Homo sapiens: one gene and its partner. The protein of the gene in region 1 interacts with the protein of each later gene in a pairwise test. Each region holds a gene or a part of one and is shown on either strand. Other genes may lie near its edges.

Evidence for each region.
Region 2: the proteins of MAGI3 (region 1) and NRCAM interact in a two-hybrid assay, tested with the Homo sapiens proteins (one study listed by BioGRID and IntAct).

The regions. Positions count from the first base shown.
Region 1 is NC_000001.11:113,644,784-113,654,001, forward strand, and holds part of MAGI3 (membrane-associated guanylate kinase, WW and PDZ domain-containing protein 3), read left to right. Parts: intron 1-1,702; coding exon 1,703-1,859; intron 1,860-4,453; coding exon 4,454-4,545; intron 4,546-6,230; coding exon 6,231-6,423; intron 6,424-9,046; coding exon 9,047-9,218.
Region 2 is NC_000007.14:108,445,087-108,454,304, forward strand, and holds part of NRCAM (neuronal cell adhesion molecule isoform A precursor), read right to left. Parts: intron 1-9,218. UniProt on the Homo sapiens protein: Cell adhesion protein that is required for normal responses to cell-cell contacts in brain and in the peripheral nervous system. Plays a role in neurite outgrowth in response to contactin binding.

The sequences.
Region 1 (9,218 bases):
TTTGTAGCTATTTAAATATCCACAATGTTTTGGATATAAAGACAATTTTATTTAAAATTCTAATTTAGTTCTAGTTTGCTCCTTTGGAGTCTTTTATCTCAAAATCAAAAGATGGCCTTCCATAACCATAAACTATAGACAATTATATTAAATGAATTAGTTCTTTCTAGCCCACCAAGTAGGAATCCTCTGCAAATTTGCTGTTTTATAGATTAAAAAGAATCCCTCAGCTTCTGGCCTTTTTTTTTTTTTTTTTTTTGAGACAGAGTCTCACTCCATCACCCAGGCTGGAATGCAGTGGTGTGATTTTGGCTCACTGCAGCCTCTGCCGCCTAGGTTCAAGCAATTCTTGTGCCTTAGCCTCCCAGTAGCTGGAATTACAGGTGCACGCCACCACACGCAGCTAATTTTTATATTTTTGGTAGAGATGGAGTTTCACTACATTGGCTAGGCTGGTCTCAAATTCCTGACCTCAGGTGATCTGCCCACCTCGGCCTCCCAAAGTGCTGGGATTACAGGCATGAGCCACTGCGCCCGGCCAGCTTCTGCCCTTTTCATTGACTGCTTATACTACTTGGGTCCAGTGTGAACAGAAATTGTTTTTGTCCATTCAGTTCAAATTGCACTGTATTCTACATTTCTCTGGTTCCTCTAGTAATCATTTTTAACTCCTGTGCCACCATATTTATTTCATAATGGATGCCACTGCAGTCGCAGTGGCCCTAATGCTTTATAATTGATGGAAGGGTCTGATGAACTTTAACCGCCTCTGACAGAATGCTAAGATGTATGGGGAAGGGTAGGAGACTACTGTTAGCTTCTCTGCCTTCTCATTGGGTCTGGGTGATTGAAGGGTCCCCTCTAGCACGACACTTTGTAGTGGCTGACCCCTGATTACTCCCTGACAGACTGGTGCCCCTGCATTCTAGTCATTGTTAATGATCACAAACATCCATAATCTCCCTCTCCTAACAATAATCCAGGAAAACGAGCTGGTCTCAAAACCATATTTCTTAGGCCATTTATTGGATTTCATTGTTAACATTTTATTAAATAAGTCATTTTGCTTGGCTGTTATCTTGGGAAAGTTCTAGCTGAATAGGAAAAATATCAAAATATGCTACTATGCTTTCCCTTATCTAATTGTCTTGCATGGTACATTTTCTCTTAATATATGTGAATTGGCCAGACAGGGTTTTCACAGTGCCATCTTTATAACCTAAATTAGAGTTAACCTCTCCTGTTTTCTTAGAAAGAGTATTATCTTAAACATCTTCCTTAGAAATTAAACTCAGTGAATGGGAGGTGGGCCGTGCTAAGAATTTTATGAAGATATTCTCTGAATCTCCCTCTTACTTTACTTAGAAGTGCTGCCTTGTATTGTATTTCTATTTATCTTCATCTCAAAGTCAATTTGTGTCTTGGTGGTGGAGAAAAGGGCAAAATTGTTTAAACATAGGACTAACTAAGGCTCTTCAGTTGATATTACTATAAACTTTTTTCTAATTTAAGTTAAATATGTTTCAACCAAATACACATTGCTATGAAAATGAATTCCTGTAACTGTAAATCTGCTGTGTCTTTGATCCTGCCACCTATACAACTATAATCAGTTGACATATCCATTTCAGATATCAGTTTTATGAATTAATCAACCATCTGCTTTTTAAAAAATACTAAGTAAGGCTCTTTTCCATTTCAGAAAACAGATAAAAAGGAAAATGCAGGAAGTTTGGAGGCCATAAATGAGCCTATTCCTCAGCCTATGCCTTTTCCACCGAGCATTATCAGGTCAGGATCCCCAAAATTGGATCCTTCTGAGGTCTACCTGAAATCTAAGACTTTATATGAAGATAAACGTAAGTAGTTGTGGAATATTTCAGGAGAGCATATAACAAGATAAATTTGGATTTATTTTAGACTAGGACCTTCCCATCTTTCAGAAGCATATTGAAAAGTTATTCCTTCATTACCATTTTAATAGAACTCTGGACTTCTTCCATGTATATTCGACATTCACACATTCATTTTTTTCAAAATCATGCTTTAAGTGCTAGTTATCTACCAGATGCCATACTAGGTAACCAGAATACAGAGATAAATAGGTTACATAGGACCTGCACCCAAAAATATTATTAGAACTAAATGGAAAAAGACAAATATGTAATCAAATAGTATACAAATAAGTACACATAATAAGCCTAACAGGTACAGTGATAGAAAGATGAAATGGATAAATTGGGATCCAAAGAAGGAATATTCAGTTTTATCAGTGTGGGCAGTAGGAAGTGTCAGGAAAAGCTTCATACTGGAAGCAAAGCTTTAACTAAGTCATCAGGGATGAAAAAGTGTCTTTGAGGAAGATAAAAGGGAAAGATAGAAGGAATAGCACATGCACACTGGCCTTGCATGACTTGGGCTCTGCAAGTAGTTCACTTTCGCTGGGTGCAATTGGCAAGGAAAGTCACAGAGGAGAGCAGGAACAGATTGAGGAAGGCCAATGATGCCCTTCCAAGGGAGCTGGAGTTGGTCATATAAATAACAGAGAACCACAGAATGCCTTTAACTATAAGGAAGGCATAGTTTTGTGTTTTAGAAAGGTTTTTCTGGCAGGAGTATGAAGGATGAATCAGAGGTGTATGCAATTTGAGGGAGGGTGTGCAATTTGAAGAAGAAACTAAAGAGTTGACTCCTTACAGGAGTCCAGCTGAGAGATAAAAAGAGAGACTGCATAAGGCAGAAATTCATGCATGTTCCTACTAATTCACTTACTAATGATAAATCTTTTCCAAAGTAAAATTGCAGATTTGAGTAGGTATAATTTTTTAAAATTTATTTGTTCTTAGAAAGAGATGTAAATCTACCTTGGAAAAGATATGTACAAGTGGAATATATGTATAGTTGACTTAATGCTTATTTAACTAGTTGCAGAAGTACATCTTGATAATCCCAAGCCATATTCAGAAAGATGAAAACCAGTTGTACGCCCAGCAAAGCAATAATTTAAATTAGCATAACAATGTAGAATCCCTTTCTTCATACTTTCCATTCATAGCCTGATACATTATTAATACTGGTATAAACTCTGCAGTCCCATCAGGCTTCACCCATAAAATAAGTGAGTTGAACTGATGACTCTTTTTTTTTTTTTCCCCTGAGACAGAGTCTTGCTCTGTCACCCGGAGCTGGAGTGCAGTGGCACAATCTCAGCTCACTGAAACCTCTGCCTCCTAGGTTCAAGCAATTCTCCTGCCTCAGCCTCCTGAGTAGCTGGCACTACAGGCGTATGCCACCATGACTGGCTAAGTTTTGCATTTTTAGTAGAGACGGGGTTTCACCATGTTAGTCAAGCTGGTCTCAAACTCCTGACCTCGTGATCCGCCCACCTCGGCCTCCCAAAGTGGACTCTTTTAATCTCTAAAGTTCTACAATTTTAATAGGAAGTATATATCAAAAGATACTGCTTCTATAGAATATTATCAGGAATTTACTAATCTCACTTTTTACATAGTTCCCTGACATGTTTATTTCTTCTCTCTTTACAGTAAATACTTCTTACCTATAAATAACATTAATATTTTCCCAAAGGAAAAATTTTAGTCATGAAATAGATTTTTGTGACTTAATATTCTTTTTTTTTTTTTTTGAGATGGAGTCTTGCTCTGTTGCCCAGGCTGGAATGCAGTGGCACGATCTCAGTTCACTGCAACCTCTGCCTCCCAGGTTCAAGCAATCCTCCTGCTTAATATTCTAAGGAATACAACCTACCCTTTGAGGGTAGGACAGTATGAGTTAGGAGATTAGACCCTGGAAATCAACCTGGATTTAAATCTTAGCTTCACCACTTGCTATGTGACAATGGCCAACTTACTTACACCCTCAGTTTTCCCACCTAGAAAATGGGGCTAATAATAAATGTTAGCTCTTAATTATTTTCCTTTAAAATGCTATCATTTTGCAAAACTAGGCTAGGTAAGTAGTTCATATGGAATACTTTTCTGAGAGAAAGGTATTAGCTTGAGAGCAGGAATAAGGTATTTTACAGGCACTCTATACAGCAGTGCCTGTACAGATTTAATGTACCTTACCCAAGTGTTAACTTAGGTCATTTGCACCTGTCAAATATCAAACTCAAGTTTGATCATTCTGAATTCAACATTGTTATATTGATTGGACAGCATTAGAAGTTAATGGCAGTGTAATACTGAGTATATGGAAGTGAGAGTAAATGTTTCTAAACAGTCTTCATACAGTTTTGTTTAGAGCTCAAAACGAGGATTTATAGTTGAATTGTGTGTGTGTGTTACACTCTTGTGCAAATTTTCCATATTAAAAAGTTCTGAGATTATAGTTTATTGAGTTACTCTATAATATCCTACTAAATACTGAACTTTGTTTTGTTTTAATCCTTTTAAAATAAATCATAGTATTTATATTTTCTGATTTTCCTCAGCACCAAACACCAAAGATTTGGATGTTTTTCTTCGAAAACAAGAGTCAGGGTTTGGCTTCAGGGTGCTAGGAGGAGATGGACCTGACCAGTCTGTAAGTGTCACTTCTTTGGAACATGGCTGTTTCCTGTTCAAACGTTTTGAGTGGTGATTTGGTGGATTATGGTGTGTTTTAAGTTTTTTTTTCTCTGACAGTTTCATTAATATGAAGAATAACTGCATTTCCATTATTATCATAGTCCCTCAGTTATTGTGGTGTAGCTGAGGCTAAAAACTGTGGGTAAAAACTGAATATGTCAGCTGCAAATTAGACAGTGATTAATTTATTTACTTCTCTGTGTGAATAACTACATAAAGCTTATTTTAAGTTTATATTTTCCTTTGCCCTCATTAAACAGAGTCTAAGACATTTTCCTTCTCTAAGAAGCCTATAATCCCATGTCCTCTTTCCCACTATTACTCTATCTTCTGGATGCTCCATAAATGGTTGGCATGAGCCTGTGCATATTGTTTCACCTCGTCTTATTAATAGGTTGGCATTTTCATGCTCAGTACTTTGCATGTCATTTCATCTGTTACCTTTGAAACTAGAGGAATATAAAATAATTAATATTTTTGTCCAGAGGCATAAGGGTTATATTTGCAAAGCATTTGAAGTCTAGGATTTTGTTTACACATGATTCTCACATAAACTTGTTTTAGAGAACAAATGTAGTGGGTTTTGTTTCTAAGTTTTGCTCTTGGTTTGAATAACAAAGAAGTAATGTGTTCTGTAGCATTTTTAAGAACATATTTGCATTTTATTTTATATAATATCAATATATTATATATCAAAAAATATGGTTGGAAGTTAGGTGAAGAACAATAATCTTTAAAAATTACAGGCTTCTTATTTCTGAATAGAACATTTGATTTATGTAGTATAAATTTGTTCTAATTGGTCATATTGGTTACAGTTACAACAGTCATTGGAGACACATAAAGCTTAAGGCAGGTTGCCCTATGTAGAACAAATACTAGATACTTTAATTGTTCTTGGTATTTGTATTTTTGTTTTATTGCTTCCTATTTTGTTGATACTCATAATGTTCACTTAGACATTTTAAGAATTTGTCTCAAACAACTTAGAAGAAACCTTTCTTTTCTCTTAAATGTCAGATTTTAGCAGCTCTGAAACTAGCCTAAACATTCAGGATTGCCTAATTACAGGATTCTAATGCTGGTGAGCAAAATGAACCAGATTTGTTCACCTAGATGCAAGTGAAGCTTCAGGCCACTCTGTTCCCGCTGAGATTTAGAAACAAGAAATGTCTCTGTGCTGTGTATATTGAACTTGTACCGTTAGTCATATGTGATGGGAGTACTGTTGAGAATGATCCCAGTTGCTGTGAACAGTATGTAGAAAATCTTGCCTGATGACATTGAACAGACTTTTAATAGCTACTCTGCAGATTTATATTTTCTGAGTTTAGTGTTTTGTTTCATTGTAATGATAGGGATAATGGTTGTGCTTTTTGAGTTATCGAACAACTTTGTATTTTCTATTTTCTTTGTACACAGCCCTGAGGATCTATAAGGGATTACATAATACAATGTGGTTATTTGAAGTGCCATTTTGGAGAATGGGCACTTTCTCAGATAATACCTTTCTAAAATATAACTGTTTTCATAGTTGAACTGCAAAAATCTGTTGGTTTGCACAATGCTAAGTTAGGAATTCCTTAACTCTTCAGCTAAACTTTACACTGTGGACCAAACTGTACTTTGTTATCTTATCAGATATATATTGGGGCTATTATTCCCCTGGGAGCAGCTGAGAAAGATGGTCGGCTCCGCGCAGCTGATGAACTAATGTGCATTGATGGAATTCCTGTTAAAGGGAAATCACACAAACAAGTCTTGGACCTCATGACAACTGCTGCTCGAAATGGCCATGTGTTACTAACTGTCAGACGGAAGATCTTCTATGGAGGTGTGTGAACTTGTTCCTGCTCTGAAAAGTTAAAAAAGAAACAAAGATACTAGTCTACTTCCTGTGTAGTTTTGCAGGTTATTTTATTACATTCAGTAGTATCTAAGATAACCCATTTGGTGTGATCCAGGGCCTCACTGTGGAAGGCTATGCAAACACAAAAGGATTCAGAAATAATACTACTATAAAAAAATAAATTTTGGGCTTCTATATTAAGATTATTTTCATATATTGATGCATTTTGCAAATGTATTATAGGTGGGAGTATTGATTTAAATCCGGTTTTGTTTTGTTTTGTTGAGTTGAGGTAGAGTCTCACTCTGTCACCCAGGCTAGAGTGCAGTGGTATGAGCTCAGCTCACTGCAACCTCCACCTCTTGGGTTCAAGCGATTCTCCTGCCTCAGCCTCCTGAGTAGCTGGGATTACAGGCACACACCACCACACGGCTAATTTTTGTATTTTTAGTAGAGACGGGGTTTCACCACATTGGCCAGGCTGGTCTCGAACTCTTGACCTCAAGTGATCCACCTGTCTCAGACTCCCAAAGTGCTGGAATTACAGGCGTGAGCCACTGTGCCCAGCCTAAATTTGTTTTGTTTTTTTTTAAATAACAAATACAAAATTATTTAGTCATACCAAGATATCCCACTAGCTGAATATACAAAGATTTTTGGATCCCAGTGAAATCTGAGCTACTAAAGGAAAGTAGGATGTTTCTACTTGAGAAGTTTTAGTATAATTTAACATTTATTGAGTGCTTACTATGTCCTAGATGCATGGATTATTTTATTTAATCTTCACAACACTATGAGGTCATTATCTAGTTCTATGATTACTCAGAGAAAGGTTGAGAAACAAATAACTGGTAAGAGGTAGGGCCTGGATTAAAAGTTGCAGTTTAATTCAGAGATCAGGGTTTAAACCATAGCATTAGGATATGAATATCTCTTATAGTTTCTCGCCAGTAGCTTTATGAATAATTAAATAGAAATTCTTATAAGTGAATTCTTTCCACTTTAAAATTAAAAAAATACAACTCTGTAGCACAAGAATATAAGCCTCATGAAGGTATGAATTTTTATTTGTGTAGTTATCTGCTGTAAGCTCGGCACCTAAAAGAGTGCCTGTCTGGTACAAAGTGGACATTAATAAATGTTGTTAATTGGATGAATATTTACATCACTCTTAAAAATGAGGCACTGTATTTTTTATTGCAACATTCAAAGTAAAGGCCTGCCTCCTTTGGTAAATACCAGGCATTTAGAATGCATATAGATTGTAATGCAGTACTGCCTCAATTTGGTTGTGTTGGAGGCCAAATGTAACTACTTACAGTAAAATTGTGATGTTATACAACCTACGCTCTTCCCTGGAAAGAATCATGAAGAAGTTTCATAGTAGTTTGGTATTATTGGAGACATTTTAGCTAATACATTCTAACTATGCATTTTGAAAAAAAAAAAGAAAAAAACATATTCTTAAAACCATGTGAATTTTCAGCCAGAAAGAGACCTTATAAATATGGACATGACTGCAGTGTGTTGTGGTTATTATTAACGATGGTTTGTACCAAATTATGGCAAAAAATATGCCCTTTTTAAAAAATCAGTTAGGACTTTGTGTCATTCTCAAGTTCTGATGTCATCCTTGAAGAGCAGAAAAAGGTGTAGGTTAATTGGCCATTTGTCAGGAATTTCATATGACCCTGTCTATGCCCAGAAGTGTTTGCTATTCATGTGGACAGCTTGTTATGTGTCCCAGCAAGTTGAGGGGTGGAGGTTGGGGAGGTTGAAGGCTGAGAACTGCTAATGATGAACTCATCTTATATCATCACTCAGGAAACTGCAGTTGCAAAACACATCATATAAGACAAATCCTGTACAGGTAGCAAACTGTTATAATGGGGCAGCATTTCTGCCCTGATGCTTTAACCTCTAAGACAGACATCAATGAATATCAGTCACTGAGCTAAATTATATTTATAATTGATTTTAAAAGGAAGTTCATGTGTCATTCCTCATTATGTGTTTCATTAAAATTATTGGTCCATGTTATAAAACTTGATGGAACTAAAACAGTTTTAGGAAGAATTTTTTTACTATCAAATCTCACAGAAACTTTGAAAAGCTTCCTTTAAAATGAGATCATGAGGTCAGGAGTTCGAGACCAGCCTGGCCAATATGGTGAAACCCCATCTCTTCTAAAAATACAAAAATTAGCCGGGCATGGTGGTGGGCACCTGTAATCCCAGCTACTCAGGAGGCTGAGGCAGGAGAATGGCGTGAACCCAGGAAGCAGAGGTTGCAATGAGCCGAGATCGCGCCACTGCACTCCAGCCTAGGTGACAGAGCAAGACGCCATCTCGGGGAAAAAAAAAAATGAGATAACATGAGATTGTATGTATTTTTCAGTAATCCACTCTGAGTATTTGGGAAGTCGGATGGACTGCTGTTGCCTACATCTGCACTCAGATTATACCCGAAGCTCACATGTGGGGCTGCTTTTCTATTCTTTATGTTATTAGAAACTGAATTTTTCTGTGAGAGGCTTAGCATAAAAACACTTTAGTCACCAGAAATTATGATGTTCCAGACATATCAAAACTGATCATGTTTATTACAGAAAAACAACCCGAGGACGACAGCTCTCAGGCCTTCATTTCAACACAGAATGGATCTCCCCGCCTGAACCGGGCAGAGGTCCCAGCCAGGCCTGCACCCCAGGAGCCCTATGATGTTGTCTTGCAACGAAAAGAAAATGAAGGATTTGGCTTTGTCATCCTCACCTCCAAAAA
Region 2 (9,218 bases), on another chromosome or scaffold:
TTATTGGTTTATGGGGTTGCTAGTTAGTCATGCCTGACACACAACAAAATTATTGACTGTCCTTTTCAAAAATATGAATGGATTATGGCTTGAAATAAAATACAATTAGATTTATGGACATTGACTGCAACTGAAAAATAAAAAGTTCCTTCTCAGAAGGACACACTGCCGACAGCTTTGCTGACTCTTATTTTATCATATTGACTCAACATGACTTTAACATATATATTATCATTTTTTGGAGAGTAAGGTTATAATTTGTGTTTTGAGAACAGTCCTATCCTGCAGCATCAACAAGGGTATCAATCTCCAGGCTGCAGTGCAAGACCACTTCATTTATTCAAAATCGAGTAGCCACATGTATTGTTAAGAATACATGATACATACGTATGCCTCAAGCATGTTTTTGGTGCAAAAAATGTCAAGTGCATTCTACCTAATAACACAGATTTACGTCATCTTTCTCTCTTAGCACTTTCATTTCATCATCATTTGTTACAGTCACATACCCCTGTGATGTAGGGTTGGGTGGTGACAAAGATTTTGTGTTTTATCTCTATTTTCTAAATAAAGAAAAGTTACTTAAGTAACTTTTCCAAAGCCATGCAGTGTATGAGCTTTCTTAATCTATGTGTAGTAGCCTAGTTCTTCTCAAATTTTAATTAATCAAAGATGTTACATAACTTTTTATTCTAGGTGTCTCTAATATGGCACCACTGCCCTGAATCCAACCCCTATAACCCACTAACTAGTTACGAAAGGCCATGCTGTAGTTCAACTCACATCTTAAGGGAGAAAGTTCCATTTTTAAAGCTACAGCATGAGAGCTTCTGATCTGTTTCACAAACCAGTCTCTTCATTTTTCATTTCAGTTCTGTGTGCCTCACTTCTGATTTCTTCAAATTCAGAGGGTAGAAAGCAATCTCAGAAAGTGCTTAACTCAGTCAGTGTGCAGCCACCCAGAGACCTCCGGAGGAAAATGACAAGCACCAGCTTCAGACAGTGAAGGGAAAGGAAAGCCACGTGCAAATCTGGAATCATCTGCCATTAGCAAAGGTAGAAAATTATAGAGGAACTCTTTGGGGTCACAAGGATGTCATTTAGACCTCCGCAGCAGAAATTTTTTAAATAGTACCCTTCTGGATTCAATGATTTCACCTGCTTGCTCAAGTGCCTAATTTAGAACCAGCAAGCAAATTACAATCTACAGAGTCCAGGCATGAAATTATAAATGTTTGGTTTCTCATGGTCTAGATCTATCTATGTCTTCAAACCAGGGCTGAGAACAAAACCCCCCAATTTTCCCCAACAAAGATCCACCTGACATTCTGACATTTTGCAATATTCATGTATTCAGTCATTCATTCTTGCACACACTCATTTATCAAATTTGGGGGCTCTCAGATACATACCACCATGCATAATGTGAAGAGCAGCTCAGGCTCCTCGCAGAACAGAGCAAGGATGGTTTCCGAAGTTAGGAGACATGGAGAAAGCTGACTAAGATAAGCAAGGGCCCCCAATGCCTGGATGACTAGTTATCTGCTTTTCTTTATCATGCAGACTCGGCCCCTCAATGTTATTTAGAGCAAATATCAAATATTTTTATACAATCGTATGTTCTCTCTGCATTTACAACCTATGTCTTTTTTTTTTTTTGAGATGGAGTCTCGCTGTGTTGCCCAGGCTGTAGTGCAAGTGCATGATCACAGCTCACTGCAACCTTCGCCTCCTGGGTTGAGGTGATTCTCCTGCCTCAGCCTCCTGAGTAGCTGGGATTACAGACGCCCACCACCACACCTGGCTCATTTTTGCATTTTTTTAGTAGAGATGGGGTTTCACCATGTTGGCCAGGCTGGTCTCAAATTCCCGACCTCAAGTGATCTGCCCGCCCAGGCCTCCCAAAGTGCTGGGATTAGCATGAGCCACCACACCCAGACCCACCTGTCTACCTCTTTACTAATTTTTATTCAGCCTTATTTGCTTAGGTTTCACTTGGTATCTATTTGCTCTTTCAACAGAGTCTCTACTTAGATATTTCTGAAAAATTTTTCATGAATTGAACTTTGATACATTACAGCAGCTCACTCATCATATAATCCTTATGCAAAGTGAAGAATCCTCTTTGATGTGAACAGTCACCCCATATGGGTTTGCCAAGTTCACTTCTTTCTTTTTTTTTTTTTTTTTTTTTTTTTAGACAGCGTCTCGCTCTATTGCCCAGGCTGGAGTGCAGTGGCACAATCTTGGCTCACTGAAACCTCTGCCTCCTGGGTTCCAGTGATTCTCCTGCCTCAGCCTCCCGAGTAGCTGGGATTACAGGCACGCACCACCATGCCTGGCTAATTTTTGTTTTTGTATTTTTAGTAGAGAGGGGGTTTTACCATGCTGGCCAGGGCGCTCTTGAACTCCTGATCTCATGATCCGCCTACTCTGTCCTCCCAAAGTGCTGGAACTACAGGTGTGAGCCACTGCGCCCGACCAAGTTCACATTTTCATATGCTAACTTTCTCAAGCTAGGGCCACCTGTACATAAAGGAACAAAACAGCTGGAAAATAGAGTGGATTTGGCTAGGAATTTAAGCATGTTACACTGAAATAACTTTAGCTTTCAATTCTTAGTAAATTCTTCTCAATACATTTCTTTTAAATGTAAATGTCTTATCATATTTCATTTTTGTAAGGTGACTTATGAGTTATTTCTATTTTATGATGTCAAGTTACTGCAATGACCCAAAGTACTACAGTAAAATATCCCTAGAATATTTCGTATTGAGTGCTATGAAGTGGAGACTATTCTCCATTAGCCAGGCAATAGCCATAAAAACTTTTATTCTTTTCCCTTTCTCTTTCTTTCAAATTTTAAGCTATTACCTTTAGAGGTAATGAGTCTGATCATGAACTCACTCCCTCTCTGCTGTTTAATGAACCCCCTCATGGTTTTAGGACAGCAGTGAACCCTTGACATCTATTTACCTTCCATTATAATTTCACATCACAGTAACTGTTACTAGAAACGTAAACATAACCATGGAGTTTTTTAAACCCCAGCACATCTATTAAAATGAAATTTACCTTAAAATTCATGAAACACACAAGGTATATATCATGATTCATGTAAAACACAACATGTCGTGTAAGTTAATATAATCATTCTGAAGTAAATTAGATGTTGTTCACATTAGAGTATTTATTATGTTGGAATTTCCATGTTACTAACTGTTCAAATATTGCCATGTCAATGTTATTTCCCTAAAAGTAGAAATATTCATTTGAATGTACTAAATATACATTTACAAAAATGGCTTTTAGCCATCATGCTACTAACATCAGAAGAAAAGACTATGTCGAGTCATTTAAGCAGTCAAAGATGCGAAAGCAAAATTTGGTGATGTTTCAACTTTCAATTTTTCAGTTTTCAAATACTACAATTTTTCCATTTCCAATCGCAGTTTTACAGAATACCAGGAAGAATTTCAAATTACCCAAAATTGCTTTTTATTTCACTTATTATAATACATTCTAGTACCCTCTACCTCCTAGTAGCTGCTTTTATTATTCTAGTGATGCACACACTAGAAAACGTTTCCTACTGAAATGTTTTCAATCAGATGCTGCCTACCAAAATGAATGGAAAACCATGTGCCATATGAAAAACTTCGAGAGTAAATATAAGAGTGATGGACTCCCACCGGGAGCAGAAAGCCAAAATCACACTTCATAAATATACTTATCTGGGAAGAAAAAACACTGGTTAGACAATATTTAGGACAGATGTATCTTGTTGCACATCAAAACAATCTGTGGACAACACCACAACACTGCGATGCAATTTTACAAGGGAAGCTGGTTGGGCATTTCTGTATTTATTCAACTAGATAATAGAGGGGAAAGCCGCAGAACAGTCAGAAGAATATTTGCAATGCAATTAGGGGGAACAAGTGCATCTGAGTGAGCGCCAGACACAGGGGCCTCCCCTTAATTCACACAGTCCAATGTTTTAATGCAGCGTACAGCAGCAAACTGAACTTCCTACAGTTTTAAAACTTTTGTCAGTTAACTAGATGTTTACCAAGTGCCTCGCTTGGGCACTCAACATTTCGGGTGTGCCATCCAGCTCTATGTAGGTTGTTCCAACACCATCTGTCACTTAAGCTTCCACAGATTCACAAATTTCAATTCGAACTAATCTACTCGGCACTCAAACTGAAGCTATAATTCAAATTTCAACATGAAGCTTGAATTCCTTTTCAGTGTTCTTCAACTTTGACCCAGCTCCCCCCTCCCTTCACTGAAAAGGGCCAAGACAACAGCCCAGCAAGTGGGGCAGGCAAAACAGGCCTCCTTTGTTCACTTTTGTCCTTTCAGCTCTCTATTGAGGTAAGGGACTGAAAAGGCACACCAGGTTTTGGAAGGCAGCAGCGGACTCGCTCGCAAGCCATCCTTCCTCAAAGAACCAAAAAACTCCAGGACAAAACTCTTTGGACAGGCCACTCTTACCTTAAGGCATAATTAATGGGAGATTAGTACTTCCCCTTTCCCTTGAGAGAGAATCTGTTAGTGGTGTTGAATATGAGTCTGTAAATGTTCATCAAAAATGCATGCCATAAATCATGCCATTCAAATGCCAAGGACATCAAAAAGTGGCATGAAATTAGCTTTAAAGTTGAAATTTGGAGAAAAGATCACTACATGCTGAATACTCATACTGAATTTTTTGAATGCTCTCAGCCCACTTGAGAAAGATAAATCAAATTCATTGCATATTACCCAGTGGAAGACCTCCTACAGGATTCCCTCAGATTGCCCTAGAAATAGATTTTTTTTTTTTCTGGTTACAGTGGGTTTTGAACCAACACACTATGCACATAATAAAATTTAAACATATATATATATTCAACATATATATATTCAAAATATAGTTTCCAGCCCTTCCTACCATTATTTAATGAGAAGAATTTCAAAAGGATCATTTTTGCCTGACAGTACCTGTCATTTTCATTCTCATGTGAATTAAACCATGTTTTAGTCCAGGGCAATATGGAAGAAATTCGGAGAGCACATAATACAAGTAAGATTCATCATTCCTGTGTTCGAACTGAATATGCCATTAGGACAGTATGTGAGTACAGGAGCATTAGTGGTTATAATTTGTTCCCTTTACCACTGGCTTTTTTTTTTTTTTATCTTCACTAGCTTCTTAGTCACTTGATGGAAACCCTCCATCAGACTGTTAAAAATTACCTTTTTCTAATTTGAAATTCCAATCTTGTAGGCCAGTAAAATAGGTCAATTAAGTTGACACCACATCTTTTTTATTAGCTCAGCTAAGCAATTATAATTGGGTGGTGAAGGTTTATGCTGTCATCTTGGAAGATTCAATGGTAGGGAGAAATGCCCAATGTGGAACTATAATTTACAATGCCAGTACATCCCTAAACATTCAGCATAAGAATATTTCTATTTTCAGATATGAGGCAAATTTGCTCTTGTTCTAGATTAAAATAATAATGCCATTTTTTGGCAGTAAAAAAAGCATATTTATTTAACTTATCCTCATAGCAAAATCATTTAGCACAAGTGTATTACAGACATAGGTACTTTAATTCAACATTTTAGAAAAATACCATGAATGTATGCCATCAATGCTGGCTTATCCTGGACTTGGACTACAACACATATGCTCCACAACATCAATTTCTTGCTTTGCACAAAGTATGTAATCAATTAATACTTGTTGAAAACCATATACCTCCATATTAATAAATGTTAAACCAATAAATTAGAAATGCTGTGAATGACTTGTTCAGAATATATAGATATTAATTTACAGCTTTAAAAGATAACAGTGGCTGGGCGTGGTGACTCACGCTTGTAATCTCAGCACTTTGGGAGGCCAAGGTGGATGTATCACCTGAGGTCAGGGGTTGAAGACCAGCTTGGCCAACCTGGTAAAACCCTGTCTCTACTAAAAATACAAAAATTAGCTGGGCATGGTGGCAGGTGCCTGTAATCCCAGGTAATCAGGTGGCTGAGGCAGGACAATCACTTGAACCAGGGAGGCAGAGGTTGCAGTGAGCCGAGACTGCAGCATTGCACTCCAGCCCAAGTGACAGGGCGAGACTCCGTCTCCAAAAAAAAAAAAACAAAGAAAGAAAAAAAAAGTAACAGTGATTGCACTTCAAACCTATTAGGATGGCTATTATCAAGAAAACAGAAAATAACAAGTGTTGGAGAAAATGTGGACAAACTGGAACCCCTGCGCATTGTTGGCAGAAATGTAAAATGGTACAGCTACTATGGAAAAGAGTATAACGATGTCTCAAAAAAAAATAGAACTACCATATGATCTAGCAGTCTCATTTCTGGGTATATACCCCAGAGAATTGAAAGCAGTGACTCAGATATTTGTACATCCATGTTCATGGCAGCATCATTTGCAATAGCCAAAAGATGAAAGTAACCCAAGTATATATGACATATGAATGGATAAACAAAATGTGGCATATACATACAATGAAATATTATTCAGCATTACAAAGGAAGGAAATTCTGACACATGGATCAACCTTGAAGGCACTATGGTAAGCAAAATAAACCAGTTACAGAAAGACAAATAAATACTGTATGATTCCACTCATATGAGGTACTTAGGGTCATCAGATTCATAGACTGGAAGTAGGATGTTTGTTGCCAGGGGCTGGGGGCTGAGGGGTTATGAACTATTGTTTAATGTGTACAGAGTTACAATTTGGGAAGGCAAAAAATGTTCTGGAGAGGTATAGTGGTGATGGCTGCACACAATGTGAATGTACTTAATGCCACTGAAGTATACACTTAGAAATAGTTTAATGGCATATCTTATGTCATATATATTTTACAATAAAAAACTTAGCAAAAACATTTTTTAAATAAACATATTGCATTTGCTGCCCCATTTAAAGACAACCTGATAATGAAGGATTTACAGTTGCTGACGCTGAAGGCTGAGCCATTCCCCTATTTCCTTCCTCAGGTAGCCTTCAATTTTAAGAGAAAAAATAAAAATTTGTCAATTCATTTTGGTACATCTTCCTATTCTTAGAAACTTCAGTCAAACTCATAGAAGCAGAGAGTAGAATGGTGATTGCTAGTGGGTAGGGGAATTGGGGAGATGAGATGTTCTCACCACACATACACAAATTAACTGTGTGAGGTGATAGATGTGTTTATTAGTTTGATTGTGGTAATCATTTCACAATGTATACATATATCAAAATATCATGTTGTACATATTAAATGTATACAACTTTTACTTGTCAATTATATCTCATTAATGCTGTGGGGGGGGGAAGAAACTTCAGCCTTTGATCCCAATAGAGGCTGTTTTAAACAGAAGGAGCTTTTCATTTGCCAAGGCAGTAAAATGTTTAAGTAAAATAAGTCACTGGATTTTTGCCCTTAGCATCCAGTTCTCTCCTCTGTCCTCACCTGCCAGGAAGGTTCCTGGAAGGGATGCTTCAGGTAGGGAAGCATAAAATTTTAAGGGAAAAGCATATCTAAATGTATTTAGTAATTTTCAAATCACTTCCTCTTCATCAATCATTGCAACAGCTGAAGACTGAAGTAAAGCAGTCTTTTGATTCAAATGCACAAAACTTCCTAAAGAATATGTTAGAAGCTCTACATTCCAGTTAAATTTGCTATGGGTTACCGAGCTTCTCAGATGGTAGGTACTCTTTGAAAATGAGGATGAGATTCCAATAGCTGCTGATCTATGGTGAGAATATAAGGAAAAAGCCTCAGTGCCTCAGTGGTTACCCTTTGGGGTGAGTAATGACTGGAAGGGACCACAAGAGGGCTTTCTCAGATGTGCATTACACTGTTCCTTGATCTGAGTGCTAGTTAAGTCAATGTGTTCAGTTTGTGCAAGTTCATCGGCTATGCATTTGTGATATGTGAAAAAAACTCTGTGTGATGAAGTATGTAGCTAGATGATAAAATTAGAATTAATCTTCCCAAGGACAGATATTCTGTTTGGTCACCACTGTATCCCCACTGCCTGGAACACAGTAAATATTTATTAAAGAATGAAGGAATGAATGAATGAAATCTTTTTAACGGAAAAGCTTCCTGTAGAGTTCCATTCAACAGCTCCTATGTACATACACAATATAATATCTGTAGAGTCTATTTATATTCAATCTGTTACACAGGGAAAATTACACCTGCATGAAAGCATTATTTGAAATGATTCTTGAAATTTTCTACAGCCCAGGTGTATACATTCTCAGGACCCCCTCACACTTCTGAAGCACTTACACCTAGCGATTATTGCCATCATTGTTGTATTGGCCTCACAGGAAGTACTATTTCCAAAGATGCTTTGCTTTCTATTCACTGTTACCGTAGCATTAACAAAAATGATGTGGTGTAAGGGCAATGGCCTTCAGTCCAAAGACCTCATCACTACCCTGCATTACGAGGCTGAGCCCTATTGCAGTTGTTTTGAAACTCGAAGGATTAGTTAGATACAATGTTGCCTGAGTCCTCTAACAGCTCTAAAATTCCTGGATTATGTAAAATGTTTAGCAACTTTCCTGTAATAAAGTAAAAAGAAGGTTGAAACAAGACTATGAGTCAGTAGGATTATGAATGCAAAATAAATCAATTTTTCCAATTGATCAGTTAATTATAATTCTAAAAGCTATTCCAGAAATAGCTGATTCCACTTTGGTTCAAATTTTCCTTTTTTACTAGTTAACATGGAGCATCTTCATAAATGCCCCCACATGTTTCTATATATTTAGGAAATAGAATGATTTCCTAAGATTGGATGCTAGGGTCCTATTCAAACTCAACATCCAATTTGAGGAGTAACTCATTTGCAGTCAAAACCGTGTACAAAGGACATTCAGGGCTGGGGACCTTTTCTTTAAAGAAAAAAAAGTTTTATGAAACTTTATGATGTGCCAGGAACATCTATGTAATCACAGAGGCCCTGGTTACTAAGAACATGTTGTTCAGTGACTGTAATGGGTTGGATTGTGGGTTAACAGCCACGTACTTAAAAGCTAACAGGAATAAAAGAATATGTAAAGGAGTTACATGGGAATAAAAGGCTATTCCACAATACAGTTCTCTGAATCACAATATTGCCTGCTACTGTGAGTTCTGCAGAGCTCCGAATTAAATGGGCTTGTAATGTATCTCCCTGGTTTTGAACACTCAGTGGTTTA